Linked DNA regions of Homo sapiens: region 1 is linked to region 2. Evidence: fine-mapped QTL for protein levels in blood plasma. A gene starts in region 2. The other region holds a variant in brackets. All regions are shown on one strand. Distances are between the middles of the regions.

Region 1 (16,759 bases), 74 kb before region 2:
GAGAGAGACAGGGTCTTGCTCTGTTGCCCAGGCTAGAGCGCAGTGTGTGATCATGGCTCACTGCAACCTCAACTTCCTGGGCTCAAGCCATCCTCCCACTTCAGCCTCCCAAGTAGCTGGGACCACAGGTGTGCACCATAGTGCCTGGCTAATTTTTCTTTTTTTTTTTCTACTTTTTATAGAGGCAGAGTCTGCCTATGCTGGCCAGGCTGATCTCAAACTCCTGGGTTCAAATAATCCTCCTGCCTCAGCCTCCCAAAGTGCTGGGATTACAGGCACAAGCCACCATGTCCAGCCTTCATCCCATCTCGGTGCCTGCTTCCTGAAGGGCCTGGACTCACATGGCTTATTAACCAGTTCATAACTCATCGAATGAATGACTTTTTTTTTCGTTAAATTGTTTAGCCTTTTCAGGCAGAGCCACCAGCTCAGTCTCTACATAAATACAGTATTAAAAGTTTCACCCAGCTAAGCCAAAGTAGACATTTGGGTCTGGAACTAGCAGTGGGTCCCCTTTCTTATATCTGCGTTTTTTTGACTAATTTGCATTAAGGCTTAAAAAGTTTCGGGGACTAGAACTCAACCTGTATTAATAACTGGGGGCCAGGCATGAACAAATATGACTAGCAGACAACTGAAGGAGCAAAGAGAAACCAGGTTAGAATGAGGCACTAGGTACCTCTGAACATCCACCTGTGAACTGAAACTGTCCTTTCCAAGCAGCCCTGTCAGTGTTTACCTGCCTTGGGGGAAAACGTGGTATTTGTGTAAAAGTAAAAGCGTTGACCTTCACGCATTGCTGGTGGGAATGTACCTTGGTGCAGCTGCTGTGGAAAACAGTTTGGCAATTCTCAAAAAGTTAAACATAGAATTGCCATATGATCCAACAATTGTATCAAATAGATGCTTATAAGCCAATTTTCATAGCAGCATTATTCACAATAGCCAATAGATGGAAACCTCCTAAATGTCCATCAAAAGATGAACAGGTAAAAACAAAATGTGGTATAGCCATACGAGATATTATTCAGCCATTAAGTCATGAAGTTCTGATGCATGCTACAACATGAATGAATTGGAAGACGTTATGCTAAATGAAAGACACCAAAATAAAAAGATAAGTATTGTATGATTCTGCATATATGAGGTACTTAGAATGTGGCAAATGCATAGGTAAAAATTAGATTAGAGGTTGCCACGTGTTGGAGGAGAGAGAAATAAGGAGTTATTTTTTAATGGTTAAGACTTTCTGTTTGGGATGATGAAAAAGTTTTGGAAATAGTGATGTTTGCACAACATTGTGAATGTAATTAGTGCCGTTGAATTGTACACTTAAAAGTGGTTGAAACGGTAAATGTTCTGTTGTATACATTTTATAATTTTTAAAAATTAATAACACAATATACCAAAAAACACTGATTTGCACACTTTAAACGGGCAAGTTGTATAGTATGTGATTATCTGAATAAAGCTGTTTTCTAAAAAAAAGCCAAAGCACTGGAGCAGCTCTGGGCCATGAAACCTGGCTGTGGGATCCCGGTAAGAGGGTCAGACCCAATGAAGACGGTGGGTATTTCCCTCTCCATTGGCAAGTGGATGGCAGCAGCAAGGGCCCACACACAGGGCAGGTGGCATTTCCTGGCCAGGTGGGCAGCTCCAGTGGTGTCATGTTAACCTGGAGGAAGCGCCTGGAAAGAGGCTTGCAAGTGAACAACAGCAAAGCACAAGCCGCCAGAGGAGTGAGAAGGAGTTCAGAGGTATTCTAGAGTGAGCCTTAAGTGAAGAGTGACCCCTGGAGGGCTCCTTAAAATAACAGATGTCGGGGAGACATTGAGAAGGGACAAGGGGCCAGGTGCTTCACATTTCCCCTGGTGAGAACTGTTAAGTGAAACCTAAATACACATGCCAGTGTGACCACAATTACTCCCTACATCATTTGTACTCCCAGGCAGTCAGTCCAGGGGTGCATGGTATTTCAGTCAAGAATTGATACAATCATGTAGATAACTTAACAAATAAGAAAGACAAATGTTGCTTTATTAGCTGAGTTCCCTATTTTTTGTAGGCATGGTGTTTGGGCTCTGGATTACATGTTTCATTTTCTGAATTTTCCATTTCTAGCACAAGTGGGTATACTTAAGAAGTATGAGGAAATGTGGAAATAATGCTGGTTTTTATCAATATAGAAAGGTTAACTAGACCATCTAAAAGACACACTTCTTACAAATCTGGTGGCGACTTGTCCCTTTTGAAACCAGAGCTTCTGTCAGCATGAATGAATGAAATGTTCATTCATCCTAGGAGAAGGACACAAAATACTGAGGTACGTGTGATGATGTTAAAATAAGTCTCTATATTCTGCATGTTGGCCATGCTTCCTCACATTAAATTTCCATGTTAAAGCAATTACCAATGGTTAGACTGTCAACACAACGCTCAAACACCTACCTGGCTACTGCCAGAACACACTGAAATGACGTATTTGTATGTAGATAGTAATATAAGCTATATATATAGCACCACTAACAGGTAGTAGTAGTATGGAAAAATGATTATTTGGGATTATTGTTACTGACAATGCATTTTTTGTTTTTAATTATTGGAGAAGATAACATGTGCAATTAAAGATAGATAAATGGGTTTATAGGAGAAAGTTTCCCTCACAGTGCCCCTTCTTATAGAAGCAACCATTGTTCCTTATACAAGCAACCGTTGCTTCTGTAAGTAGCCATTGTTCCTCCTGGAGACTCAATACGACTTTCAATCATGCTAAAAGTTTATTTGCATTTGGAATAGATCAATAGAGTCATTCTTAGAGACAAACCTCTTTTAAATTAATGCTTTGTTCACAAACACAAATGTATGTATTTGCAAACACATACACACACACAGGTTAGTCAAAAGTCTCTAACAGACTGGAAAAATAACAAAACAATGGGTTTAATCACTGTCTATAAATAGAAAAAAAAATCTCAAAATGTATAGAATTTCTAACACCTAAAAATGTTTGAATATTGATGATTGACAAGATTTTTCTGGCAGTGTTTTGTTTTTAAAAAGTGAAGTTGCCCTGTGGAAATAAGTGCTTTTTTGTAGTGACTTGGACACCACATACTGTATATGGTATGTGTAGAAATGTCCACAAAAAATAGCTATAACTTTTAAACCATTTTTCTCCTGGCCCATTACTCTGCAGGGGTAATTTGAGTAGGCATTGATGATGATAAACACCACAGTTTAGAAGATGTTAAACCAACCTTATCAGAGCTCACATAGAGAAACAAATTAGGCAAACTGCAGTAATTTCAGCTAATGAAGTTTGATTCTAAACATCCAGATCAATTAAGCTTCAAGTACTTGCTTGGGTTCCTGCTCTGTAAGGCAGTGAGGATGTGCTAGTTGGAGGACGGGCTGGGAGGACTCATAGAAGTTTATAAATAAAGATGAAAGAAGTATTCAGTGCTTCCTGGAATATATTTCACAGGCTTTACTGAGTGAGGATCACATCATATGAAACTGAAGGAAAAGCACATGCTTCATGTGGAAGGTTCATCTATGTGAACCCTCCTTATTGAGGGCCTCCTGGGTTGCAGTGCTCTAAAGACCTGGTATTGTGAGAATGTGGCCAGCCTTCTGCATAAAACTACACTGTAAGAAAATGGGCATAAATGAGGTAAAATGGCTTCCGTGGAAGGGTGAGGATTGCAGAGGCTGGAAGTCAAGAGACTGAGAGAACTTAATCCTAGCTCTGCCAGGAACTACTGTATTTTCTTTCTCTGAGTCTTGGTCTCCTAATCTACAGAATGAGAGATCTAGAATGGATCATTTCTTCTGCCTCTTCACTTTCTTACGGTCTCCATTTCAACCCAGGTCTTCCTCTGAGCTGGTGAGAAGTTCTAAGTGCAGAAGTGTGTATCTGTGCTGGGTGTGTGTGCAAGAGCACACAGTTGCGAATGCACGTGAGAAGATGGAGGACAGCAGGAAGGAAAGGAATGAGGAAGCAATTCCCAACCTGGCCCTCTCCTGAGTTTGGATGGATAAGTATGTCTTTAGAGACGTTAGCCTCCATTGGTTACGTGCCCAGTCCTGTCCTGAAACTAATTCAGACCACTATTCGCTATGGTGGTGGCAAGTTGGGGATTCTCACCAGACACACATCTGAGAAAATTGACCCTTACAGTCACACTTACATATTTGCCCCACCCACAGACCCAGGCTGAAGAAGTCAACATTTTATTCCCTTCCATTTCCACTTCCTCTCTGTTCCTTATCACCATGGACACCCACTAACCCCACCCTGCTCAGAACCTCCTAGAAACAGATGGCAACTCAGATAAGTGGCCTCCAAATATTTTTAGAGCATATATTCCCTATCTGTGAGTATTTAGTAATAAAATATACATGCATTAGTGGTATACTATATGATTGCATATATTATAAAAATAGAAATTAAAATCACATAAGTTTATAAAAGAACAGAAATAGACATTTTCATTTTCCTGCCACACCCAAGTTTCATCTCATGCTCCCCCTGGATGCACGCATGACATAAGGTTTGCTTTTATGTCATTGGCATCAGACTGATTTGGGAATGAGCCTTGACTCTACCCCTTACCAACTGTGGGGAAAATAACTAAGCCTCAGTTTCCTCATCAATAAAACAATACTGTACTTCTGTGTGGTGTTGTCAGAAGGATTTTCATCATCTAGACATTTTCTTTATTCCTCTTCAAACTCTTTTGTCTCATTTATTCACTCGTGCATTTTATTATTTATTCTACAAATATTTATTAAGCATTTTTAATTCTTTAAGTGCTGTTCCGATTGATGGGAATACATAAGGAACCAATACAGTCAAAATGCTTGCCCTTGTGGATTTTATGTCCTAGTGGGGAAGACAAAGAGTAAACAAATAAACATATTATGTCAAGTGATGAGTGGTCAGTATTGTGGATACAAAAAGGCAATATAAAGTGATATGAATGTGAGCAGGAGCTATTTTGGATTGAGTGACCAAAAGTGTTTGTTGAGGGGTGACATGTGGATAGAGACCTGAATGAAATGGTGAGAGAAGGCATCTGAGGGATTTATGAAGAGCATCCATTCAAGGGACCATACATGTGCAATTTCTGAAGCAGAAATGAGCTTGGCATCTTCTAGGACCAGTAAGAAGCCAATGTAGCCACAGCAGAAGAAATAAGTTAGGCAGTAACCAGATTATGTTGGACCTTAAAAACATTTTCGGGACTTTGAATTTTATTTGAAGTATGCTGGAGAACTGCAGGAGAGGACTAGAACCACATTGAAGGCCAGTTAGCATGACTCTCAGGGACTCCTGGATAACAGAGCCTAGATCTACATGACTGCATTCAGGAATCACTTGGATCAGGCTTTATCAGCCTGGGGAAGATGGGGTGTCAACTGAGGGCTGTATTTGCATCTAAACCTATGGTGGCATGCTGTTCTCTCCAGTGATCTTAGATGTTGGATAACCCTGAATGTACCTGGTTCAGCAGAGTTGGGCTCCAACCACAGTCCATACCAAGAGACACACGGAACTCTTCCAGCCTCATACTATACAAACTATAAAAAAAGAATGAACTCATGGTTGCTGGTGTTTGTTTGTTTGTTTGTTTGAGATGGAGTCTCACTCTGTCACCAGGCTGGAGTGCAGTGACACAATCCCGGCTCACTGCAACCTCCGCCTCCCGGGTTCAAACGATTCTCTTGCCTCGGCCTCCCAAGTAGCTGCTACTACAGGCGCGCACCAGCACACCCAGCTAATTTTTGTATTTGTAGTAGAGATGGGGGCAGCAACATGGAACATGCAGGAACTGGAGGCCATTATCTTAAGTGAAACTACACAGAAACAGAAAGTCAAATACCACTTGTTCTCACTTAAGTGGGAACTAAATAATGTGGACACATGGACATAGAGTGTGGAATGATACACATTGGAGACTATAAAGTGGGGAGGGTGGAAGTGAGGTGAGGGACAAGAAAGTACTTAATGGGTACGATGCACATTATTTGGGTGATGGTTACACTGAAAGCCCAGAATTGACCACTATGCAATATATCCATGTAACAAAACTGCACTTTGTACTCCTTAAATGTATACAAATTTTTTTAATGAACCTAAAATGAGATGGTTGAGCTTCCAAATGTTCTGATGTGACACTCACTCACTCAGACATTGCTATCTGTGACCTGTGGCTAGCTAATGAAACTTTTTTTTTTTTACACTTTAAGTTCTAGGGTACATGTGCACAATGTGCAGGTTAGTTACATATGTATACATGTGACATGCTGGTGTGCTGCACCCATTAACTCGTCATTTAGCATTAGGTATATCTCCTAATGCTATCCCTCCCCC[C/A]TCCCCCCACCCCACAAGAGTCCCCAGAGTGTGATGTTCCCCTTCCTGTGTCCATGTGTTCTCATTGTTCAATTCCCACCTATGAGTGAGAACATGCGGTGTTTGGTTTTTTGTCCTTGCAATAGTTTGCTGAGAATGATGGTTTCCAATTTCATCCATGTCCCTACAAAGGACATGAACTCATAGCTAATGAAACATTTCGAGATCCAAAAGCTTACAATCACCACTTGTCCAGAAAAATGTTGCTGATACATTTGATGTGTAGTCTACAGGGGCTTTTACTGTCCTTTAGAGAAGTAGATTTCTTTTGATTTACCCAAGTGTATAAATTTCTAATACTGATCTTTCTGTCACTCTGAACCTACTATTGACTTGACCATGTAGAATAGAAACCCAGTGTCTGTGTAGGAACCAGGACGTTGCAGGGTTTGGGGCAGGGACTAACAAGATATAGTTTGCATGCTTCAAAGATCTCTCTGTCTTCTGTATGAGGAATTTATTCTAGGGAGGCAAGAATAGAAGCAGGGAGACAAGTTAGAAGATTATTAGGATGATGGTGCTGGCGATGGTAAGAAATCGGGATGTATATTGAAGGTAGAACCAGCAGAATTTACTCATGCATTGACTATGAAAGGGAAAAGCGAATCAAATAAAACTTGGAGGTTTCCTCCTGATTACCTGGGAGAATACTGATGGTATTTATTGAGGTATGGAAGGCAGGGCATAACAGGTTGGGGTGAACAGAGCACTCAGGAGTTTTGTTTAAGGCATATTAAATCTGAGATGCTTATTGGACATCTCAATAGCAATGTTGGGTAGGCAGTTAAATATATGTTTGGTGCTCAAAAGGAAGAGATGCCAGTGCTAAAGACATACATCTGGGAGTCTTAGAAGATTGTATTATTGACCCCAGCTATTTGCTCTCTTTCTGGTCATGTGACTTTTTCTTCCAGGGATGACTATACCTTCCTTCCTCATGGAATTTATGAGCATGTTCTGGCCACCCAGATGTAAGTTTCCTATGTCAAACTAGAAGTTTCTGATGTGATTATCTGGTTTACCTCTGTTTCTATTGTTCCTGCTCTCCACACTATAAGAACAATATGTCCAAGATAAGGGTGGCTACATCAGTTCTGGGTCCTGAAATAAAAAGACGCATGGACTTGAACACAGTCAAGCTGAGCTGAGTCACAGATAATCCCTCAGCCCTCATGTAACATGAACAAGAAATCAATAAATGTTTATTGTTGTTAAATACTGATATGTTGGAGTTATTTGCAACCTCAGTAAAGGCCAACTAATAAAAAAATTGGTAACAGAAGTGCTACCATATCTAAAAATATAAAATATGAGGCATTAACTTTAGGGCTAGGTAGCAAGGGAATTCTTCCAGGAGGTTGGACAAGTAAGATTCATGATATGCAGTCGTGAAAAGTTTGGTCAAATTGTGTCTTCTAAACTTGGAAGGCAGATAATGTTCCTAATGGACTTGCTGCATATGGACAAATATAGAAGGATTGAAAAATTGAAAGAGAGCATGATGGTAATATGAATAAGAGGTGAGCTCAGAAAGAATTCACCTATTTCAATGAATGAGATGGAAAATAGGCAGCAAAGAAATTCTGGGCCTTCAAGTTTGGACAATAAAATCCTTCTCACCTCCCACCTATAAAATATAAAATTTAAGTATTCCTTGAAATAGAAAGGCCTTTTAATACTCCATCTCAGGGCAAAGACAGAACCAAAGGTGTCATCATCAGGCCTATGTTAAGATTTCTGGTTGGATTAAGGTGACTTGCAGACATTTTTTTTTCCACCACTGGACAAAACGGCTCAGGGAAAAGAGATCAAGAGTACGTTCCTATGAAAGCATGATATACCCACATACCCATAATCAAGTCTAGAGAAAGTCTTTCTTGAAATGAGTAATGGTTGTGTCTATTGGAACATGGATCCAACCAGTACCAAATAGATTAAAACAATACAACAAAGTGTTTGAGAGAGTTAGGTTGTCAAAAGTGCTGCCAGTCTGTGACTATTTGAAAAGCAAAGTTGGCCCTTAGGCTAATTTGCTTTTAAATGACTTTAGAGATGGGGTCTTTTTCTGTCACACAGGCTGGAGTGCAGTGGTGTGATCACAGCTCACAGCAACCTCAACCTCCTGGGCTCAAGTGATCCTCCTGCCTCAACCTCCCAAAGTGCTGGAATCACAGGTGTCAGCCAGCCCTTAGGCTAAGTTTTTATGGGCAAGAATATGATGTATTCTGAGGGAAGAAAATATATGTGATCAATGTTGGATCATGATAGATTATTATTCCCAATTATTTGTTCCCATAGTCTAATAGGATGATTTATCCTCACTCACTTTCTGTCATGTGAGTTGTCTTCCCTCTTCGGAGAGACAATGTGTCTCCACTTCACATATTTGGATACATGAAATAATTCAGTTAATAAGATGTGAGGACATGTACATATCTGAGAAAAAGCTTTAAATATGATTTCATGGTTTGTGTTGCACTCTCTTGCTCTATTTTCCACAATAAGACAACGTATTCCAGAAAAGGGCTCTTCAATCTAGGATAAGTCACACTGAGTTTAGCAAAGCTAAGCAGAGCCACAGCTGACCCACAGCCTTAGCGTAAATGGTCAAGAAATAAATCGTTTTTGTAAGGCAGTGAGATATTGGGGCTACCTGCTACTGTGACAGTAGTTAGTTAACACAGGAGTCATCTGTGTATGGGTAATGTATTTAAGGCCATAGAACTCAATGAGATTACATAGGGAATAAGCACAGATAAAGAGACAGACTGAGCCTGGGAAGAGGAGACTCCAGGAAAACAGACTGAGAAACCATGGACAAAGATGTTAGAAGGAAGCAGGAAAGAACCAGATGAGAGGCCAGTAAAAAAACAAACAAACAAACAAACGTGCTTTATGAAAGACAGCATAGTCCATAGTGTCAGACACTGCTGAGGAAAAGAAAAAGATACAGAAATGATACTAAATTTAGCAAGGAGGAGGATATTGATGACTTTAACAAAGATGATTTCCATTAATTGGTGGGAAACATAGATTGGCAAGAATTGGATAGAATATAAGTTGAAAAAATGAAGACAAAAATACACATTTTTTTTTATAAATTTTCATTAAAGGGAAGCAGAGACATGAAGAATTACCTGAAGGGAATGAAGAAGTTTACAGACTCCTGTCTCATTTTGTTTTCCAAATGAGAGATAGCACAGGATGTGTACATGTGGATGGGGAAATCCAGTAGAAAGCCATCATTTCAAGGTAAGAGGATGCACTAATTGATGCTCAGATGAGCAATGAATATACCATATTTAACATTAGAATTTTTATATTGATAGTGTTAGATCATATCATTGCCAAAAACACAAAGAAAGATATTAAAATACTGTCATGCCAGTTATTCTCTCCCCTTCAGTTCTCCGAGGACTGTGGGAGGGGCACCCACAAAGAATAAAACAAATAAGAATTAAAATATCCTGTACTGATGGTGTACAAGTGCCCCAAAACTCCAGGTCAAAGTCCTAATAATGGTTGACTAAGACCCTACAGCTCAACCTTCTTGTCCAAGTCCTGAATCCAATTAATGGGATTTTATCCTCTCTAGGTAACTGCAGAAAGGGCAACTGAAGAGAGTGATCAGTCCTGAATTCACTTTCATACCCCCATGGGATGAAAGAGAGAGCAAGGGAGCAGGGGCTGTGTTTGTGTTTCTTATGCCACAATAAGAAACTGCTCATATACTCAATGTCTTGAGCTCCAATAATTCACATGATTCTTCATCCCCGGCAGAGGTGTTGGCAAAAGCTAGCAAAGTGTGAGTAAAGTTGGTCATGCAGTGGCAAGTTCTCCTTACCCTATGTTGGGAGTTGGTAGGTGATTGTGCTATTCTCCATGGACAACTCATTCATATTTAACTGGGAACCTCTGAACAAAATATCCTAATCCAAAGGCATGGCCTTCTATAGTGTAAATTCTAGACATCAAGGCACAGTACTCCTAAGTCCTCTATTTCTCTAGCAGTAAAGCTGGTTCATGCAAAGCTCAGTCTCCCCTGGGGGCCCTTGCATGTCCATCATACACAGGTTATTTACTATAAAACCTCTAGAAAAATCCCTTATGAGGTCTGTTCCTTCCTTCCTAGGATATTCAAATGGACATTCTCTTTCCAAACAGCCCATAACTATCAAATCACTTGATTTTTAGTGCAAAGAAAGAACAATTGCACCAGAATCCGGTGACCATGCTTTTTGGGTAGCTCACAGAGAATTTCATAATTCAGAATTAATTAGGCAGTGAGCAAGAACAAGAGGCATATTTTGGTGTATTAATTCATGCCAAGTTCAAACTCATTCCATCTCTGTTGCCCGGTGTGAATAATTATGCCATTAATCCCAGGCAGGAGGAGAGCTATTGTGACTACAACACATTTCTAAAGCAAATAAAGAAAAATGTCACTTCTCCCTTTCAACTAATGCTCTGAATACAGCTACATAATAATAATAGTCATTTATTTATAGGGCATAAATTCCCTAGGGCTCAATAAGCCACAGGATAAGCAAAATGCCAGTTAAAGAGAAAAAAAACAGAACTTTTCCAGTTATTAATAATTCTGAAACAAAGCACTTGTTGGGGAGAATGACCAAGAGGAGAAACTGAAAATTTAAGGAGAGCTTGGAAAAGGGCTCAAAGAAAGAGACAGTTGTGTGGCTTTTTCATTTTCTTCTCCCCTCCTGTTACATACTGCTCCCACTGTGACTCAGAGGGCCAGCTGTCTGGGGAAGAAAAATTTGACACATTTTTTAGGTTGGTGCAAAAGTAATGGCAAAAACCACAATAACTTTTGCACCAACCTAATAATCAGCCCTGAATGTCACCCTGATGCTACACACCCTTTGCTGTGAAAGCAAAATAGGTCGACCTGCCCCCTTCCCCATTTCTGAATTCCTTTCCAACTCACAGATGGCTTATTGAGCATAGAAGTATTGGAGGATCAGTGTGGTTTCCCATCCAGCCTCTCTTATGAGGGTCAGAAATGCATGGGGAGTAGCAGTCAAGAGGGTGCCCTATGTGCGTCATTTCCAGCTTCACAATGTTGAAGAGGAGATTGGGGATAGACAGAGGAGTGGCACTATGCAGAAGCAGTTCTACATTTTTCTACATTTCCTCTGAGACAGAAGGAATAGGGTCGAGGCCCACCAGGCAGGAGCCCTGAGTGCCAGAGGTCACAGAAGCAGTGGGGATCAGTCCACACTGCCCTGACACTGGCCCTTCTGCAGAGAGGTGGTGGCTGCTCTGGGTTCACACGTAGCCCTGCCCATTCCGCCAGTCAGAGCTGGCAAGAGATCCTTTAGCCACAAAGGCAGAGTGGCTGAGTTAGGAGATGGGGCAGGCCCTTCTCCTCAGTGGCTCCCACACCTAGCAGTGTCCAGAACACAATTCAGTGTTGCATGAACGAAATGAAGTGCTCTCAGTCTGCCTCTCATTCTTTCTTTATTTCACTTGGGGAAGTCACTTGACTCATTGAGTTTCAGTTTTCCTAGGTATAAAATGCTAACGATATTATATTATGAAGATGAACTATTGGAATTGCTATTTTTGTGGCCCAGAATTTTTAGAATGTCAACAATTTCACAAGGTTCAAACTAATAATTTATTTATTCCTTCATCCATCAATGAATGGCCACTATATGCTTAAAGCTGAGGATTCAGCAAGGAACAAAACAAATGATCTGGCCATGAATCTGACATCTTAGTTACATCTTAGTCAGGGGAGGGCAGAGTATGAACACACAGAGACAGGGAATCTTCTCTCAGGGGTAAATGCTGAAAGAAAAATACATCAGGATATGGGACCAGAGAGTGTGGAGGTGGCTACCCGTGACAGGGTGGCTAAGAGAGTCTTTTCTGAGGGGTTGGCATTCGAGTAGAGACCTGAAGAAAGCAAAGGAGAAAATAAAGATCTGGGAATAGAGCATTTCAGAAAGGACATTCCTGCAGGTGGAAAGGAGTGAGGGGTGGGAAGAGTGGAGGAGGGCAAGGTCAGAGAGTAGGCCATGGGAAAGACTTTGCAGTTTAATTCTAAATGAGACAGGAAGTCATTGGAGGGTTCTGAACACAGATGTGATACATTTTTCTAAGATCGCTGTGGTTGTTTAAGTGAAGCAAGTGAGGGCAAGGGGAGGGGAGAACGACGCAGACCACTTAGAATGTTACTGCTGTCATCAAAAGAAAGATAATGAGGACTTGGACTAAGATGGTAGCGGTGTCCGTGCCAAGAAGTGGTTATATTTGGAATATATTTTGAAAGTGGAGCTAACAGGAATGACCAGTGAACTGGCTGCAAGGTGCGGGAAAGAGAAAGGTCAAGAATGACTCCTAGGCTTTGGGCCTATGGTAATAAGTGGCTGGCGGTGCCAAGGGGGAATGGGGTGGAGCAGGGTCGGGAGAGGAGGAATCTAGAGTTCTGCTTTGCACACAATTGCATTTGTTTTGTCTGTCGGTACATGTGGAGAGTTGAGCGGGCCATCTGGAGCTTCATGGAAATGTCAGGGCTAGAGATAGCTCCTTCCAGCTATTTCGGGGCTAAACTTAGATCAAACACATGCACACTCTTGGGGATCTGTAAAGGACAGGACTGTATGAACACAAGGAATAAGTGACTAGATGCTTTCCCTGGGTTGCTATGTCAAATATGCTTATTAATATTTTAGAAACCAAACCTTTCTTCCCATATTCTAATTGATCGTCTATTCAACAAGTTTTACAATATAAATTTTAAGAATGTGCATTTTTCTAGGAACTCGGTAAAATTACGATTATTTGAAAATAAAATAATGTCTTTTACTAATAGTTTTACTTTCCCTGAATTGCTCCCTCACGTGGCGGGTAAAAGAATCTGCTCTGGACTCCCCAGTCTAGACAGTAAAAGAACTCAGTCTGGACACTAGAGGGCGCAATGCAGACAGTCAGAGCAGCCGCAGGAACTGAAAGGCGGCAATTCAGGAGTTCGCAGATCACTCCCTCTCCTGCTGTGTAAATCAGGGGTCCCGGCATTATGAGTCAAGGAGGGCAGCCCCCAGGCCACCAACGTGTGACCATTTTGATCAGGGGGATAATAGGGCCAGGCAGGGTTTTTCCAAAGGGAGCCCCTGGCAAATTTAAGGCACATCAGAGGAGAAAAAAGAAGTTAAGGAGAGAGGACACGTCAAGGAGAAAGAGAAAGAAAAATAAAGTAAGCAAAAATGAGGGAAACCAAGAAGTGCCTATTATAGAAGAATGGGAGAATTCCAGAAAGTCAGGGACAGAAAGGGCCTCAGAGACTTTTTATTTTTTTCTTTAAACTGGGTCTCGCTGTGACACCCGGGCTGGAGTGCAGTGGCGTGATCACAGCTCACCCCGACCACCCTGGGAGGATCAAGCGATCCTCCCGCCTCAGCCCCCCGAGTAGCTGGGATTACAGGTGCACAACATCACGCCTAATTTTTGTATTTTTTGTAGAGAAGGAGTTTCACCATATTTCCCAGGCTGGTCTGGAGCTCCTGGGCTCAAGAAATAAACCTGCCTTGGCCTCCCAAAGTGCTGGGATTACAGGTGTGAGCCACCACGTCCTGCCCAAAGACCATTTTTATTGAACTTTCTGTTTCCCAGATAAAAGGCTGAGGTGCTTCCTGGAGTTAAGTTTGGAGGCCTCCCAGGGTTGCTGTGCTCTCAGTCAGTGGTCTTCATTTCCCTACCATGTCATCTTCACAAAGTGTATGAACCTTACCAGGTGTCTCCTAGATGTCACATCATTCTCAACAAGCCTTAATGTGAGCACCCACTTACTTCACATATTTATTTTGCTGAGTCCCAAATGAACTGTCAAGTACGAATGTGGAATGCTGCTATGGCATAAGTATGATGATACAACTTGTACTGACATGCTAGATACAATAAATCTGCATTTAAGATGTAATTACAATAACTGGTTTTGTGGCTACAACTTTAAAAGGGCTGTGGGGATGACATTCAATTTCCCAGCATTCTTAAAACATTAAAAAAGTTTTGCATGCCTGCAGCATGCAAAATTATAGATGAAGAATCAAAGTTTTGGTATCACAGATATGGGTTTAAATCCTGGCTTTCAGTGGTTGCTAGCCCATGATTTGGAGCAATATTTCTAAGACCTCTTGCCTTCTCATCTATAAAATGAAAATAATAATAGTACTATGTCAGAGGATTGTTGTGAGGGTTAAATAAGATTGTTGGTAAAACTTCTAGTTCATTGTATCCTCTCAATAAGCAATTTGTAATGTTCACGTCAGAGAAAAACTGATATCCTTAAACAATAAAAGATTCTGAAAACAAATAGGGAAATGGACACAGGATATGAATAAATGATTCACAAAAGGAGATAAATACATGTGAATTAAAGTTTACAAGTAGTCAAAGGATGCAAAGTAAAGCAACAAGTGGAAACATATTTCTCCTCCTCCTTGGTTTCTTATTTCAGTTAAAAGCAGGCTCACTCAATCAGTTGTCTAAGCCAAACACCTGAAAATTAAAATCAACTACTTCCTCAAACACGGGACAATTTGAGCATCAAAATAAATAATAGCATTATAACCTATTGAATAAAGTAAGAATTCCAAAGTCCACACTGATATAAATAAATGAATGTATAAACAGTAAGTAGGAGAGAAGGGAAGGCTTTTCTTTACAGAAGAAAGTCAGATAATAATAAATGTAGAAAGAATGACAAAATCAGAAAATAATTTGTCAGTCATCCTAATAATAATTCTTTTAGGCAAGACGATTGCAACTAGTAGGAGAACATTTAAGGAGTATCTCCCCACAAGATACTTAATTGATTACAAAAGGTAAATTGGTAAATGTACTAACTTACTGGAGAAACCAAGCAGGTTTAATTTTAACCAGTTGATGGAATGTGACACTTCCAATAATGAAACTCGTTGACAGCAGAGCCTCCTGATGTGATGCAAAAACTCAGCATTGCTTCTGTGAGATCCCTGCCAAAAGTCCATAATCTGCATGTGATCATGTGGAACATCAGACAAACCCAAACTGAGGACCATCTACAAAACAACTGCCTGTCCTCTTAAAAACTGTCAAAGCCATGAAATACATAGAAAGACTCAGAAACTGCTCCAGATTAAAGGAAACTAAAGAAAGAAAGACAACAAAGTGCTATGCATGATCTCGAATTTTCTATTGCTATAAGGGACATTATTAGAAAAATTGGAAAAATATGAAAAAATTCTGTAGATTAAATAATAGCACATAGCATTATTAACTTTGGATTTTAATAGTGGTCAAGGTTTAAAAGAGAATTTCTTGCTTTTGGAAAAACACACTGAAGAATTTAGTTGTAGAAAGGCAATATACCTGCAAATTACTTTTAAATGGAAGAGAGAGAGAAAAGAAAGAAAAAAAGAAAGAGAACGATTTCTAATCCTTTGGGTATATACCCAGTAATGAGATTGCTGGGTCAAATGGCATTCCTGGTTCTAGATCCTTGAGGAATCATCACACTGTCTTCCACAGTGGTTGAACTAATTTACACTCCTGCCAACAGTGTAAAAGCGTTCCTATTTCTCCATATCCTCTGCAGCATATCCTGACTTTTTAATGATTGTCATTCTAACTGGCGTGAGATGGTATCTCATTGTGGTTTTGATTTGCATTTCTCTAATGACCAGTGATGATGAGCTTTTTTTCATATGTTTGTTGGCCACATAAATGCTGGATAAAGAAAATGTGGCACATATACACCATAGAATACTATGCAGCCATAAAAAAGAATGAGTTCATTTCCTTTGCAGGGACATGGATGAAGCTGGAAACCATCATTCTCAGCAATCTAACACAGGAACAGAAAACTAAACACTGCATGTTCCCACTCATAAATGGGAGTTGAACAATGAGAACACATGGACACAGGGAGGAGAACATCATACACCAGGGCCTGCTGGGGGGTGGGGGGCTAGGGGAGGGATAGCATTAGGAGAAATACCTAAAGTCGATGACGAGTTGATGGGTGCGGCAAACCACAATGGCACGTGTATACCTATGTAACAAACCTGCACGTTCTGCACATGTATCCCCAAACTTAAAGTATAATAATAAGAAGAAGAAAGAGAGAGAAAGAGTGAGAAATGTAGAAAATGTTGACATTTTGAATCTTGGTGAGGGGTGTCCAGAAATTATTTGTCTTATTCTTGCAACTTTTCTGTAATCCTGAAATTATGTCAAAATACAATGTTTTTTTAACTGGCTTCATTCTTTTCCTTACCCCACAAATGCATCAATCACCAAGTCCCTGTGGTTCCATTTCCTAAATACCTCAACAAACAT
Region 2 (16,759 bases):
TTAGGTCAACCATTGTGGAAGACAGTGTGGTGACTCCTCAAGGATCTAGAACAAGAAATACCATTTGACCCAGCAATCCCATTACTGGGTATAGACCCAAAGGATTAGAAATCATTCTACTATAAAGATACATGTACATGTATGTTTATTGCAGCAGTATTTACAATAGCAAAGACTTGGAACCAACCCAAATGCCCATCAATGATAGACTGGATAAAGAAAATGTGGCACATATACACCATGGAATACTATGCAACCATAAAAGAGAATGAGTTCATGTCCTTTGCAGGGACATGGATGAAGCTGGAAACCATCATTCTCAGCAAACTAACACAGGAACAGAAAACCAAACACCACATGTTCTCACTCGTAAGTGGGAGTTAAACAATGAGAACACATGGACACAAGGAGGGGAACATTACACACTGGGGCCTATTGGGGGGTGGGGGGCAAGAGGAGGGAGAGCATTAGGACAAATACCTAATGCATGCAGGGCTTAAAACCTAGATGATGGGTTGATAGGTGTGGCAAACCACCATGGCACATGTATACCTATGCAACAAACCTGCACGTTCAGCACATGTATCCCAGAACTTAAAGTAAAATAAAAAAACTAGAACAATTATAACAATATATTCTAATAAACGTTATGTAAATCTGGTTTCTCTCTTAAAATATCTTACTGTTTTCAGAGCACTGTTGACCATGGGTAACCAAAACTGCAGAAATTGAAACTGCAGATAAAGGAAGACTATTGTACAAGGATATCAGAAATGTGTCCTAGACAGAAATGTGAGGATACTATTTGGCTCCCTGGCATCAGTTTTTAGTTCACATGGAATTAGTAATTCACTAAAGAGATTGTCTTCCTGGAAAACTAACCCTCCTTCCATTCATAGTATATAAAGTTTAGACAAAGCAGATCTCAGTCTATCCAAAAGCTATGCCCAAGGCTTATACCAATCAAAGTAGCTTCAACTCTTCTCTGACGAATCCTTCATGCACCTAACGCAATGTGGCAGATTGTACTTTCTGTAATGACTGCCACTGCACATCTCCCATCCCAGCAGCTCTCCTTACATGACTTCAACACTCCTCTCACTGAGAGGCAAAGTCTATGTCCCTTTCTTTTAAATCTGGGTGGGGGCTTTAGATTGCTCCAAGCAATGGAATGTTGTAGAATGGATACCATATGACTTCAAAGTCTAGGTAACAAAAAGGACACAGCTTCTGCCTGGCTCACTTTTTGGGAGGATGATCACTCTGGGAAACCCAGCCACCAAGTGGTGAGAAACAATACCATGCAGTGAAGCAACATAGGGAGGCCGCCATGAAGAAGACATGAAGCTCCCAGCAACTACTGCTGAACCTGTGAGTGAGTGAACCTTCAAATGATTCCAGCCTCCAGGCTTCAAGTTGCCCCTGCTGACATGGAGGGGAGCAGTGACAAGCTATCAACACCAACCCTGATCCAAATTGCAGGCTCGTGGGCAAGGTAAATATTGTTATTGTTTTAAATGACTAAAATCTTTAGTGCTGAAGCACACCTTCTTCTGCATTTCTCCACATCATTCTTTCCATTCCTCTAAGCATGGCCTTCACCATCCTTATCTAATCACTAGTGTTTTTGTGTCCTCCAACAGAGCCAAGGAATCTCATCTCCAGTATCTGTGAGTCTCACACAGAAAAGGACCCCATAAGAGCTGTAGAAAAATCTTTGACCCTCTTTTTTTCCAGATTCCATGGAATTTAGTGGTGTAGTGGTTAATATCAGATGCTCTGGAATCAAGCTATGATGCTCAAACCCTGGCTACTCCCTCCTCACAGTGTGAGATTGAGCAAGTTACTTAACTTCTCTTGATCACAACTTTTTCATGTAAAAATAGAGATAGTATCAATACCTACCTTGCATAATTTCTGGGATAATTCTATGATAGGAAGAACATAAAGTACTTAAAAACATAAGGACTCAGTAAATTCTAGTTGTTGTTATGATATAGAGTATTTTCTCATTTATTCAGCAAACTAATTAGCCACATACTCTTTCTAAGGTACATTTTAAGTTTTTTTCTTGCACTTGTCACTGTGTTTCATTTCAATCAACTTTAACATAATCAAGCCACAGATTTTTTGGCCATTATTTTATCTTCAGTTGTTTATTGATTGTTTAGTTAGGCAGGCCAGTTAGAAATGTGATGAGCTCTGATATCCCCGAGCTTACAGGCACCAGCTCTCCTCAAAATATTAGAGAAAATGTATCCCAGCTCACATGTTTTGCACATCTGTGTTCTTCTGACCCTATGACTCAGCCCTGACTGCCATTAGACCCCCTGATCTGACCCCAAATGACAAACTATATACATAATCTCTCCCTGGCACCTATACTCAGCATGTGGAGTGAGCCAGCTTAGCCAGTATCATCCAGCACATCACACACAGCTCCTGGGGCCCCAGACCGGTTACCTTAGGATATTCTTTCCATCAGCCAGCCACTAGGTGAGTGGACCGGAAACAAAAGCACTAAAGCTAAGGTGGCTGTACAAATTCTGAATCAGATGAGTGCGGAAACATCACTAACACAACAAACACATAATAAGTACTGTCAATAATAGAAACTGTAAATTTAAAAAAGAAATAGAAAAGAAACACAAAACATGACTTCTTTTTAACTTTCCTTCACAGCCAATGAGTCAAGTCTTCTTCCATCATCAGAGGAGGTGAAGATGCAGAAGAGAGCGGCCACACTTGAAGAGTGAATGAGAGCAGCAGGAGCCCCAGGGGAGGGACCTTGCCTCTTCAGAAGACTGAAGCAGTGACAAGCGAAAAGAAGAAACCTTAGTAAACTGATTAAAGAGAGTTCACCTCCTCCATAAGACACAGGCCAGACCTGGATAATAAGGAGGGTCATAGATAGCCCTGGAAATAGATGTTATTTTCCTTGCAATACATCACTTTGGCCCACTGTGCCTTGGGCTGCCCCTCGAGTGCCCAGGCACCCAAGCACCTCTGAGCTTTTCTCTCAGGACGTTCTCTGGAGCTATAAAAATTTGTTCTGTCCAAGAGCAGTCTTAGCCCTCAAGTGAGAAAGAATTAATGCTCCTAGAGACAAATTTCAACCACCTGGAAACAGGAATTACCAGGCAAATGACCCAGCCTCCTGAATTTTGGAAAGACAATGCTGACATCCATTCTTTATGGATTCTCAAAGAGTCCCCAGCAGGATTCAGCTCCAGATACCCACAGCAATAGGTAGCTCAGTAATGCACTCATGGTTAGCTCTCCTTATTTTCCCTGTTTCATTCTTCCTACTTCCTCGCTCCAGTCTCTTGGAATTATCTCAGAAAAAAAATTAATTACCTCTAACTAAATCCTTGTCTCGGCCTGTTTGTTGAACAAAAGACTCAAACTAAAATCCAACTGTATTGGGTTGAATAGTGTCCCCCCAAAGTTTATGTTCACCCACCACCTATGAATGTGACAGCATTTGGAAGCAGGGTTTTGCAGATGTAACTAAGTTAGAATAAGTTCATACTTGATTAAGAGGGACCCTAATCAAATGACTGGCATCACTTTAAAACAGGTAAATGTGGACACAGACACACAGGGAAGATCACCCAGCAACAGATACAGAGATTGGAGCAATGCATCTACAAGCCGAGGCAGTGGCAAGGATTGCTGATACCCCTAGAAGCTAGGAGAAGCATGGGACAGACTTTGCCAGACACTTCCAGAAAGAACCAACTCTGCTGATACCTTGATTTCAGGCTTCTGGCCTCCAGAACAGTGAAAGAATCAATTTCTGTTGCCTGCTGCCAGCAGTTTGTAATACTTTGTTATAACAGCACTAAGAAATTAATACCCCAGAGTGTCTTAGTCAGGGTCCAAGAAGACAGAAACCACTCCAAATATTTGCAAACAAAAGGAGTTTATTCCAGGGAACTGATTACATGACAGGAGCCAAAGAGGGTAAAATGAATCAACCGAGAGATTAGCAATAGCAGGAAGCCACTACCACACCTAGCTGGAGGCATGGAGGGAGCAAGCAGTGTTGCCAGGACCCTGATCACCTGGCAGAATATGAAACCATATCTAGCCTGCCAGGTGAGAGCTGGAGCCAGGAGGAGAGCAGAGGAGTCATCCTGAAACAGTCCGCAAGCTAAGAAGAAAGAGTGGGAAGGAAAAAGACCCTAATTCTTCAGCACCACCCATTGGCTTGGTCCAAGAAGACAGAGCTGTCAGACAGAGAAATCTGTGTGATGTAGACTGTGTCACAGAGAAGAGCAGCAGGAAGATGAGGGCTGGATCTGAAAGCTACCTGGGCAAGGATCCAAACCAACAACTCCACTCCAACCCCATGAGACTCAAAGGAGGAGAGTTTAAGCTTTTGCTGTTTTTTAAATAAATTACTAGGATCCATAATAATACCAGTAAAAGGTGAGATCTGAAGGATGAGAGACACTATGAAGAAACAGTGTGAGACAGTAATAATGCACTGATGATCATGGCAGTACAAAAAATGGGAAGTCCTTCATGAGTCAGGTTTCTTTAAACCCACATGCAACTCCCACTTAGATGGACACAACAGTATGTGAAGACTCATACTGTGTTCTTTTGTTCCAAGAACCACCACGGGAACACACCAGGAAAACCAAAGGAATTCACACACCCTTTGAAAGAAGCAGGACACTGCTGCAAATTTTGCAAAACAGGTGAAAAACTGTAAGTTCCCAAAGTGTGAGAGGGAAAAAACCTGCCTCTGAACACACATCCCCACTGGGGAATCTGAAAATCCAGATCAAGGGAGAATTTAACCTTACCTTGAACTGAAACAAATGTAGGCAGTCACACAAAATATAAAAGTAGAAGTATCAGTATCAGAAGACTGCAAGGCACTTCCAATCTTCAGCTTGAGCCCAGGGAAGCCATTCCTGACTATATCTCACAGGATCTCTCAGGGAAGGCAGCCAGTGGAATTGGGGAGGGGTCACCAGGTGAAGGAAGCTTCCAACTGAAATTGGTAGTGGTTTCAATTGGACACAAACTTTCTTTAGTGGAGTCTAGGGGACGAGTGGGAGCTTTGGCAATATGAGCACATGAACTCAGAAGCAAAGAAGCCACTCCCGTTGGAGTGGGCAGATGGGGAGGGGTGATATCTGAAATCCATGCTTGCTTTCTCAGTGGGAAAGTTCACAGCCTTGGGCAAGATCTGAGTGGGGCACTTTGGGAGTGAGACTGGCCTTGCCAACTGTGTGGGAGCTGGGTGAGACCTCTCGCTACCAGCTTTCCGCCACTTCCCTGGTGAATTATATGACACAACAGAGGTAGCCAAGATCCCCTCTGGAAAATAACCCCATTGGCCTAAGAACCACCCCCACATCCCGCACAGTGGCCACAGCAAACCCCACCCAAGGAGACTCTGAGCCCAGACCCACCTAACCCTGCCCCAACATGATGGTATTTCTTTACTCACCCTGGTAACCAAACACAAAAGATAGAAACTCTTGGGAGCTTTCAGGCCCCACCCATCATCTGAGAAACCAAAATACTCACCCTGGCCAACTTAGGGCAAACCTAGATCCCTCTACTACCAATGCAGCTGGTGCTCTCTTGAAAGCACCACTTCTTGGCTGGAGGCCAAACAACACAGGCCATTACAGCAACTCATGACAGAATAACCCTGAACCCAGGAAGGAGAAGATAACACCTAATTCCAATGCCTGCAACATCCTGGCTAAACAGAGGTCCTGAGTGTGTCCACATGAAAACTTCACTGCTAGCATAACCAGCATTCAAGAAACCCAGCACACTACACATATCTACAACCAAGGACTCTCACAGAGTCTACTTCACTCCCCTTCCACCTCCACCAGAGCAGGTAATGGTATCCATGGCTGGGAGACCTGAAGAGAGATCACATCACAGGACTCTTTGCAGACATTCCCCAGCACCAGCTGGAACCTGGTAGCGCCACTGGGAGGCTAGACCCAGAAAAGCAGTAACAGCCAATGCAGTCCAGTGGTCAGAAAGTCCCATCCCTAGGGGAAGGGGGAGAGCACCACATCAAAGGATCACCCCATGGGATAATAGAATCTGAACAGCAGGACTTGAGTTCCAGACCTTTCCACTGAAATAGTCTACCCAAATGATAAGGAACTAGAAAGGTAATTCTGGTAATATGATAAAACAGAGTTCTATATCACCTCCAAAAGATCACACTAGCTCCCCAGCAATGGATCCAAACCAAGAAGAAATCTCTGAATTGCCAGATAAACAATCCAGAAGATCATTAAGCTACTCAAGGAGATACCAGAGAAAGGTGAAAAAACAACTTTAAAAATTAAAAAATATATATATACATAAATATAGGATATGGGTGAAAAATTCCCCAGAGAAATAGATATCATAAAGAAAAAATAATCACAACTTCTGGAAATGAAAGCCATGCTTAGAGAAATACAAAATCCACTGGAAAGTTTCAACACTAGACTAGAACAAGCGGAAGAAAAAACTTCAGAGCGCAAAGACAATGCTTTCAAATTAACCCAATCAAACAAAGACTAAGAAAAAATAATTTTTAAAAAATGAACAAAGCCTCCAAGAAATGTGGGATTATGTTAAACAGTCAAACCTAAGAATAATTGGTGTTCCTGAGGAAGAAGAGAAATCTAAAAGCTTGAAAACCTTATTTGAGGAAATAATTGAAGAAAACTCCCCTGTCCTTGCTAGATACCTAGACATCCAAATACAAGAAGCTCAAAGAACACCTGGAAAATTCATCACAAAAAAGTCTATCACCTAAAGTCCTATCCCAGTTCTGTTAAAGTAATAGCAGGAATAGCACCTTATAAATACCTAGAAAAATAGTAGAAGGAAACATGCTTAAGCATTAATAATGATCTCCGGTGGTAGAATTTTTGGTAAGTTTAATTTTATCATTTACATGTTCCTACTTAACTATACATATATATTTATATATATTCATATACATAAATATACAAACATATGTATATATACACATTTTTGTTTATGGACAGCCTATGACTGTGAGCCAAGGGACATCAGAGACATGGCTCTCTGGAAACTGAGAGAATACTTAGTGGACAGTTTTTTGTTTGTTTGTTTGTTTGTTTTTGAGATGGAGTCTCGCTCTGTCACCCAGGCTGGAGTGCAGTGGCGCGATCTCAGCTCACTGCAAGCTCCACCTGGGTTGACGCCATTCTCCTGCCTCCGCCTCCCAAGTAGCTGGAACTACAGGAGCCCGCCACCACGCCCGGCTAATTTTTTGTATTTTTAGTAGAGATGGGGTTTCACCATGTTAACCAGGATGGTCTCGATCTCCTGACCTCGTGATCCACCCGTCTTGGCCTCCCAAAGTGCTAGGATTACAGGCATGAGCCACCGCGCCCGGCCTTAGTGAACAATTATTATCAGGATGATCAGCATCCATTTTTCCATCACCTGGCAACAACAACTAGCATTTCTCAAGGGAAATCCCCTCCTCATTCATAAGCACCATAGATGGAGTGGAACAGTCCCCACCTCAGCTTAAGGAGGGCTAAATAACCAAAGCATAAAGCAATCAGTCCACTACACTTCAGTGGACCCAATGATGACTCATTTTGGTTCAATAAATATCAAGTCCAGAACTTTTGTGCAGAACTGTGGAATAAAAAAAGTTATCTTTGTCACAGAATATTTATATTTAAAGAGGGGATTCTAAATATCCCAAAAATATGAATCTGAGATAGTGGTAAGATAGGAATGGGTTGCCATTTGCAGTATTTGTTGGGTGTGTGCAACTCTGCATACTGCTAAGGCAAGTCCAGCCTCCGTCTCACACCAACAGGCAGATTTCCCCACCACGGCCCTTACCATCTTGTGCTCTAACCCCAGATTTTCAGTCTACTCTTGCTAACCATCAATTCTTCAAGGGCAAGAGCCATGTCTCTCATATCCCTGGATCTGGCTTGCTAAATAATTATTCATGATTTTATCTGAGTAGAAAAAGAGCCAAGAACTGAGAAAAGGAGACATTCTTGGTTCTCAGTCACTGAGGAGCTTCTGCAGTACCAGCCTTTCTGCTAGCTGCAGCCACAGCTTCAACAGCTCCACCTCCTTGTTCTTTATTCTTGCTTTCACCTTGTTACTCAGCAGCAGGGGTGTAAATGTGACAGTGCCATGTCAACTTAAACCAAACCAGATAATTTTAATAAACCACCTTCTATAATGACACCCATCAAAACCAGAAGGGGACAAGTCTAGGAGGTCTCTGAGTTTACTGTACCCATCCCTCCTTCATCTCCCTCCAGCATTTGTTTCTGGAAGGAGTCAACACCAACAGCTCTGACCTGGGCAGCCTTCCTGAGAAAATGCAGCCATTCCTCCTCCTGTTGGCCTTTCTTCTGACCCCTGGGGCTGGGACAGGTAAGTGACTATCCCTATTCCAGAGGCCTGAACCCATCTTATAAGATACCCTGTACCCATGAGCACTGGTCAGGAATTTTCCTCAATCTGAGCCCACCTCCCATTCCACACCCAGACTTATAAATCTGAGGCTAGATAGACACTCAGCAAAGATCGAAAAATGAAGGGTGTTCCCTAAAAGGTTTAATGGGTGTTAGCCTCTCCCTAGACCTCTCCTTTATGACCTGGAGTGTGGATTGTTCTTAGAAAGGCATTTGGTAGGGAATGTGAAGCTAAAAAAGATAAGTAATTATTACTCTACACTCCAACCCAGGAAAGAGGAGCTCAGACACCAAGTTGCAGTCATAGGAGTTGTTACTGGACTCAGCTTAAGAACCACTTATTCAGTGCCCCCACCCAGTCACCCCTGCCAGGAGGGAAGCCCATGGTGCAACTGATCTCAGAGATGGCAAGATGACTGTGTCCATAGCTCTCCCATTACCTTGGCTCCACCTGGGCTTTGCGATTCATTTTTAGTTGATTTCTCCACTTCCTTCTGCCTTTGCAGGCCCTCAGCTACTCCACTGACCTGGTGATAACCCCCTCTAACATCCCTGAGGTCCTGAATCCCACCAGCACTACCCCCACTAAACCTCAGCCAAAGGCTAATTGGAGGCTATTCATTTATGCACCAAACAACACTTACTGAGAACCTAGAATGTGTTCAGCCCTGGCACATGAGAATTTTAGAAAATCCAACTCCAGAAGCTCATGGGTAGATCATTAGAAAATGGCACCAATCAGGAGGACAGCAGAGGCTCAGAGGAATCAGAGAGACTCACTAAAAAGGAGGAGCCTGGGAAGTCCTGTCCAGGATCCTCTGGGGCTCTACCACTGTGAAAATAGATCTTTCTTCCTCCATGTGTGTTTCTGCAGTAGGATGCAGAAGTCAAGCACTGTCCATTCTTTCTGAGAGAAGGTTCTGAGACTTAAAGTTCAGAAAAGCTTGCTCTGCCTGCAAGGAGTACTGCCTGCAGAGCTCAGGAGGACCCCTCCCTCACTGTCTGCAGCACACAAAACACTTCACCCTCAATCACTGTCGTCCTAAGCCTTCTCTCCTGACTGCAGCCATCCCCAGCTACTTTATCTTCCAGTCTTTCCTTTCAGAGGAGATCATCGGGGGCCATGAGGCCAAGCCCCACTCCCGCCCCTACATGGCCTTTGTTCAGTTTCTGCAAGAGAAGAGTCGGAAGAGGTGTGGCGGCATCCTAGTGAGAAAGGACTTTGTGCTGACAGCTGCTCACTGCCAGGGAAGGTAAGGAGCAGCACCAGCTCACCTCCTGAGTTCCCCCTACAGGGACCCTTGTTTTCTCCTGGGGACTGCAGCCCAGGGGAGCTTCCAGAGTTCCTGGTAACACAAGCCCATGAAAGCTCATCGGAGCAGCCACCTGGGAATAGGACTAAGATGATGAAAGGCTGAGAAATAGGACAGGGTCAGAGGGTCAGAGGGTCAGAGGTCAGAGCAAGTGGCATGGTTTCACACACTGGCCCAATAAGGCAGTAGTAAAGGTTGAATCCATGCATTAAGGATCAAAATGCAAACTCGAGCAATTTCATGATATTTCCTGAAGGCAAGAGAGAGCCCCCAGAAGCCCTACTCTTCATGTCTTTGTGAAGTAGAGGGCACAGTCACTCAGCCCTGGAGCCCTCCTGTCCCTTCAACTTCCCCTCAGCTGCAGCCCTACCCTGCCACAGCTGTCATCTGCTCTTCACTGCTCCTGGGCTCTATCCCCTGTGACTCCACCCCCATCCTCACTCTGCTCTCTGTGCAGCTCCATAAATGTCACCTTGGGGGCCCACAATATCAAGGAACAGGAGCGGACCCAGCAGTTTATCCCTGTGAAAAGACCCATCCCCCATCCAGCCTATAATCCTAAGAACTTCTCCAACGACATCATGCTACTGCAGGTGAGGCACACTCCTGCCACTCTTGCTCTTCTTGGTCCAGTTGGTTCCACTCCCACTGGGATGCCGGCCCTTTCCTCCTTTCCATCCTGACCTCTTGGTCAGTTCCTGTGCCTTAGAGGAGAGGGAAGATTGTGCAGCCCCATCACTGTGTCGGGGCCCAGAAGGCCATTGCCTGACCTGGACTTTCTTGCTTCTTCCCCACCAGCTGGAGAGAAAGGCCAAGTGGACCACAGCTGTGCGGCCTCTCAGGCTACCTAGCAGCAAGGCCCAGGTGAAGCCAGGGCAGCTGTGCAGTGTGGCTGGCTGGGGTTATGTCTCAATGAGCACTTTAGCAACCACACTGCAGGAAGTGTTGCTGACAGTGCAGAAGGACTGCCAGTGTGAACGTCTCTTCCATGGCAATTACAGCAGAGCCACTGAGATTTGTGTGGGGGATCCAAAGAAGACACAGACCGGTTTCAAGGTTGGGTTTCCAGCCTCTACCCAGAAAGACCACAGGGAGAGAGGAACTTGAGGGAGTTCTGGGGTATGACAGTGGCCAGATCTTTATGCTCTCAGCCCAGAGCTTGGGCAGCCTGTGTCCCCCTGGAATCTAGTCTTTAGTCCACTCCTTGGGTGGACTGGGGTGGCTGGAGGGGAAGGATCTGTCATCCGACAGTCACTTATCACCAAAGTGTCCGTGAGAATTGCAGAGAAAGGCTTGGTCTGGGGAGAGCCAGAAAGCACAGCCAGGGCCATGCTGGAGACCCAGGACTGAGGGAGGTGAGTGACAAGGCCTGCCTGGCACTGATGTCACACAAAATCCATAACAGAGACCACCCATCCCAGGGAACACTAGCTCAGTCTTTCCTCTCTCTGTTCACAGGGGGACTCCGGGGGGCCCCTCGTGTGTAAGGACGTAGCCCAAGGTATTCTCTCCTATGGAAACAAAAAAGGGACACCTCCAGGAGTCTACATCAAGGTCTCACACTTCCTGCCCTGGATAAAGAGAACAATGAAGCGCCTCTAACAGCAGGCATGAGACTAACCTTCCTCTGGGCCTGACCATCTCTGGGACAGAGGCAAGAATCCCCAAGGGGTGGGCAGTCGGGGTTGCAGGACTGTAATAAATGGATCTCTGGTGTAAATATGACTGAAGTCTTATTTATTCACTGAACCATCTTCAATATGCAACAACACTGCTCCAGGCAGCCGTCTGCTGTCAGTTCTGGCTTTTGCTTCTTCCTTTCTCCCCCAGCCCTCCCTCCTCCCTAAACCCCATGCTGTACAGTTTTTTCACTAATTTCTCAATCACATGTCTTTGATACTGAACCCTCTGTTAGAGCTGGTTTGAACTCCATTATAAACAAACAATCTTCACCCCTCTCCCTTCACAAAAAAAAATAAACCTCTCTGGACGTTAGGAATTTCTTATCGTCTCTAAACCAACTACCTACTCCCCTAACAACGTAGCAGAGAATGGAGCAGGGCAGTGGAAAGGAAATAACTCCAGGGACTCAGAAGGCCAGGGGCCATGCCATGAGTACTCAGTTTCCTATTTTCAGGGCCTGTCCCTCCAATGGGGGCAGGCTTCTCCCACAGCCAGGTCTGCCTGCAGCTTAGGAGGTTGAGATGCTCCTCTGCACCTAGGTCCCTCTTCCCTGCCCTGGGCCCAGCCCTGAGCTCAGTCAACCTTCTTCCTTCCTGGCCGGCCTTCCCAGCTCCCAAGAGTTTTTCACCCAAGTGCCCTGGCTACCAGTTTCTTTCCCTTCTAGATCACCCTGTTCTGAAGCCAGCCTCTCTCTCATGTCCCTAACAGAGTTCCCAGCTCTGTGTGAATTCTTCTCTACTGCTTGTCCCAGCCAGACCTCGGCTGCCAGCCCACCTGATGCTGATCAGAGGAGCCAGCTCTCACCTTCCACCTGGGCAGGGCTAGCTGAGGCCCTCAGTCCAGTGCAGCTTTCCCCAGGGTCTCAGGCATCACCTTCTGGGGAGCCACCCAGCAGCCTCAACATCTTTCAGCCTAGCCTGGCTTCAGACCCAGACTCCCCCTGTTGGCAATCTGGGGTTATGGCAGCTGTGCACCAGAGGGCTCCAGGGCCACTGGGCTGGAAGTAACACTATGCCAGTTATCAATAGACTAATACTTGCTGATCTCTCTCTTTGTGCCAGGCATATAATAGGCCCTGTCCCTGCTTTTGGAAATTTTACAATGATAAAAAGTTTCATCTCAATTCTCCTGGTTCCTCTGCTTCTACCAGGCAGGTCAGTTTGGCACAAACGGATCTGTATTTATAATCTACAAGAAATCTTGTTTTAAAAATAATTAAATTATCTATATTCTACCTGTAGTGTTCATTACAGCCTCACATGCATGATCTGGCTTGATTCCAGAAGGACAGTGTGTGAAATTAGAAGAGACTTGGAGATTCTCAGGTCCTAAAGTTTTTAATCTATGCTCAGTGGAGTCTGTGTCCAGAGGTGTGGAAGTGTATTAGTCTGTTCTCACATTGCTAATAAGAACTTACCTGAGATTGGGTAATTTATAAAGGAAAGAGGTTTAGTTGACTCACAATTCCACATGGCTGGAGAGGCCTCACAATCATGGCGGAAGGTGAATTAAAAGCAAAGTCATGTCTTACATGGCGGCAGGCAAGAGAACTTGTGCAGGGAACTCCCCTTTATAAAACCATCAGATCTCGTGAGACTTATTCACTATCACGAGAACAGCACAGGAAAAACTGGCCCCCCCGATTCAATAACTTCCCACTGGGTCCCTCCCACGACATGTGAGGATTATTACAATTCAAGGTGAAATTTGGGTGCGGACACGGAGCCAAATTATATCAGGAAGGAAGGAAGAAGACAACCAGAGCAGCCTTGGCTTTGTTTATTCTGCATATAGAAGACATTAACCTCAGTCCACAAACTTAAGAAATGCTACAGTTCAAGTGTGAGACAGTTAATATAATAGTGACCCCGTTGACTTTATTTAGGATCCTGATCTCTCAAATAGTACTGCTAATGAGTTAAATGTGACAGAACACTGTAAACTCACAATAGCTGGCAAACACTGAAACAAATGGGACCAACACTGAAAAAAGTAGAAACTTCACTGAAAAGAATAACAAATAAATCACACGCATACAGGGAAAAAATCCAGCACATTGAAAAATAAGAGGAAAAACAAATAGACTTATTTTTCACATAAGGCTGTCATGATGTCTATCTCCCAAGCCTTTCCCTGGGAAGCAGTACTGGCAGCAGCACAGGTGAGAGAGGAGTCAATATATGCAGAGATAAGCAAGTGACCAGCAGCACACGTAAGAGTCAGGGGGCCATCACATAGAAGAAGCACAAAGACCCCAAAAAACCAGCCAAGTAGAGCTCTATGGAGTCCCAGGGTGTAAGCCAAAGACAGCGGCAGAGTGACCAAAGATTTCTGCCACCAGGGCCAAAGGACCCTAGTAAGAGAGTGCCTGGTGGGTCAGTCTTCCCTCTTAGATCTAACAGAAACACTTGACATTGAGCATGGGACTTTATCCTATGTAAGATCTGAAGAGTGTGTGTGTGTGTTGTGTGTGTGAAGGTTATTCATAAATATGTTCATTGCAACATTATTTAATAATAGAGCCCATATTAGAATCAGTATTCATGTCCAAAATAGGGAAATGGTAAAATATCATGCATTCAACATATCCATTTTGCAGCCATTAACATCTACATTATCCACAGCTATAAAAAACTAGGCTAACAACATTAATAGGCAAGTTCATTTTTAAAAAAAAAACTCATAAACATTTGGAAAAAAGTAAACATTTGGAAAATAATTAATCAATACAAATTAAAATAATAACTTTTGCTTATCTGATTGGGAAGGATTTACAAAAATGATAATATTCAGATTCAGTATAAGCATTGAGAAAACGGTATTTTCACGGCTTGTACACAAAGATCCAAAAAAGAAAAGAGATTCTTTGACCTGCAGGAGCTGGATTTTATGTGGAAAAAAAAGTATTTGACCTAGCCATCAACCACACAAAGAAAACTGAACACAGTTTTTCCTTATAACAACCTTGGTATACAAGTAAAATCTTAGAAACAATGCAAATATCCAGCACTAATTGGGGGATTCATTTTTTAAAGCTGCATATTATTAAACACTATGAAATCCCTGAAGTTACGATATATAACTACATTTTGTCACATGGAAGAATATTCACCAGGTATGTTTATGCTAAAACTAGATTATAGATTGGTATATACTACAATTAAATTTGTGCTTATATACACTTTTTTTCTTTTTTTCTTTTTCCCTGAGACAGAGTCTCGCTCTGTCACCCAGGCTGAAGTATAGTGGTGTGATCTCGGGTCACTGTGGTTCAAGTGATTCTCCTGCCTCAGCCTCCCAAGTAGCCGGGATTACAGGCATGTGCTACCACCCCCAGCCAATTTTTTGTATTTTCAGTAAAGAGGGGGTTTCACCACATTGGCCAGGCTGGTCTCAAACTCCTGACCTTAGGTGATCCACCTGCCTCGGCCTCCCAAAGTGCTGGTATTACAGGTATGAACCATCACAGTTGGCCATGCTTATATACACCTTTTTCCTGTAGGCATTTTTGCTTCCTATGTATCTATTTTCTTAATTTTTCTATAACTTTTATGTATTATTTAGTAAATTAAAAGTCTGTTTATTAGATATGAATAACATTTTAAAATGATATTCACTAATAGATTTTTAATAAAATGAGGAAAATGTTTATGTTAATTTAAAATATATGATTCAAAAATAAATATATTTTAGTCACATCTATGTAAAAATATACAAAGAAACAATCTGGGTGAAAGTACATCTCTGTTAACTGTCAGCTGGGTGGTAGGATTAAGGCTGACATGATTCTTCTTTCTATTTTGTAATGTATTCAACTTTTTAAATTTTACGATTATTATATTAACTTTATTTTTTAACAATATTCCATATGAGAAAAAGGTTGGCTTAAGTTTGTACATGTGTGAATTAAGATAACCCTATTATAACAAATAAGCTTCAGAATTTCAGTGACTAGCACAACAGAAGTTGATTTCTGTTCTTTTTTTGTTTGTTTGTTTTTTTGAGACAGAGTCTCGCTCCGTCGCTCAGGCTGAAATGCAGTGGCACGATCTCGGCTCACTGCAAACTCCGCCTTACGGGTTCACGCCATTCTCCTGCCTCAGCCTCCTGAGTGGCTGAGCCTACAGACGCCCGCCACCACGCCCGGCTAATTTTTTGTATTTTTAGTAGAGATGCGGTTTCACCGTGTTAGACAGGATGGTCTCAATCTCCTGACCTCGTGATCCGCCCGTCTCGGCCTCCCAAAGCGCTGGGATTACAGGTGTGAGCCACCACGCCCGGCCGAAGTTGGTATCTTGCCCACACACAGTACAAAATGAATATTCCCAGTGAACAGTTGCATCCTTTTATTCTTACGTGTTCCAGTTTGGCCAACAAATTACATGGTCAGCCCAGGATTAAGAGATCCAGGCTCAGTTCTCTAAAGATCCTTCCCCAACTTCTTCTGCATCAAACCATGGAAGAGGAAAAGCCTAGATGATCAGGCATAGGAGTGTGTTCTGGGCCAGGTCTGGAAGGTGCCCACATCATTTCCACTCACGTTCATTTACTGCAACAATCACACAGCCACACCTAACCCCAAGTGAGGTGGACAACGTAGCTCATCAATGAAATGAACTACATTTCTTCCCTCAGAAGAAAAGGAAATTATTTTGCCAAACTGCTGGCTTGTCTCTATCAAAATGCTTAATGGTGTTTACTGTTTATAAGGATCATGTGCTCTACATTTCTTCTCCTGCTTATAAAACGAATATATTTCCATTATAGAAAAAAATCAATAATATAAAGTGAAAATAAGAATCACATAAAATTGTTGTTCTGATTATTGCCCTTTTCCCACAATTCTGTCAAATTCGTGTCAAATTGTATAGTTTTACACTCTACTTTTTCCATTTAATATTAGGTGATAAAGATAGCTGGCTAGAGGCAGCCAGCACTTGCTTCCTCCACAAAGAAAGACTACAACAGTAGGTAGATAATCACGTATCAAATAGTATTTCTAAGACAGAACATAAGAATTCAGCATAAGCCTGTCCCTGAGACAAAGTGAGCCAAAGCACATGTTCCTCAGAGCCTGAGAGCCATCTGCCTGGGACCACTGCCACTGACAGCAACCCTGTATCGCCACCCTCCCCAACCCATACAGCAGTGCCACTTCTAGGGTCCTGGGGACTGGCCCACATGGAGTCTGTCCCAGGGCTTGTGGACAGGCCCACCCTACCCATTGCTGCTACCATCACCTCTGCTGCCACTCAAGTGCACCATCTGGGGGCCTGGATATCAACCCACCCCACCCAT

Which allele goes with the higher level. Alleles are on the strand shown, and positions count from the first base shown. The strength of an association depends on the size of the effect and on how common the allele is.
For the plasma level of the protein whose gene starts at base 8,298 in region 2, A is the low allele of the variant in region 1 and C is the other (weak association).

The links. PIP is the chance, under the fine-mapping model, that this variant and not a neighbour inherited with it causes the effect. Protein levels are from antibody-based Olink assays in UK Biobank. Linkage for the fine-mapping came from a reference panel and not from the study's own genotypes, which makes the PIPs less certain.
Region 1: its variant is fine-mapped to the plasma level of the GZMH protein (UK Biobank, PIP 0.96).

What each region holds. Positions count from the first base shown.
Region 1 is chr14:24,675,693-24,692,451 of GRCh38, reverse strand. No RefSeq gene overlaps it. Among named protein-coding and RNA genes, the nearest start is that of GZMB, 50 kb to the right of the region's middle. RefSeq lists a silencer at 13,256-13,435. The variant C/A (reference allele first, on the strand shown) is at 6,377.
Region 2 is chr14:24,601,224-24,617,982 of GRCh38, reverse strand. GZMH (granzyme H) reads left to right here and starts at 8,298. Exons shown (of 5, transcript NM_033423.5): 1 at 8,298-8,424; 2 at 9,571-9,718; 3 at 10,236-10,371; 4 at 10,577-10,834; 5 at 11,237-11,503. The coding sequence starts at 8,370. The coding sequence ends at 11,380. RefSeq lists an enhancer at 11,717-12,216.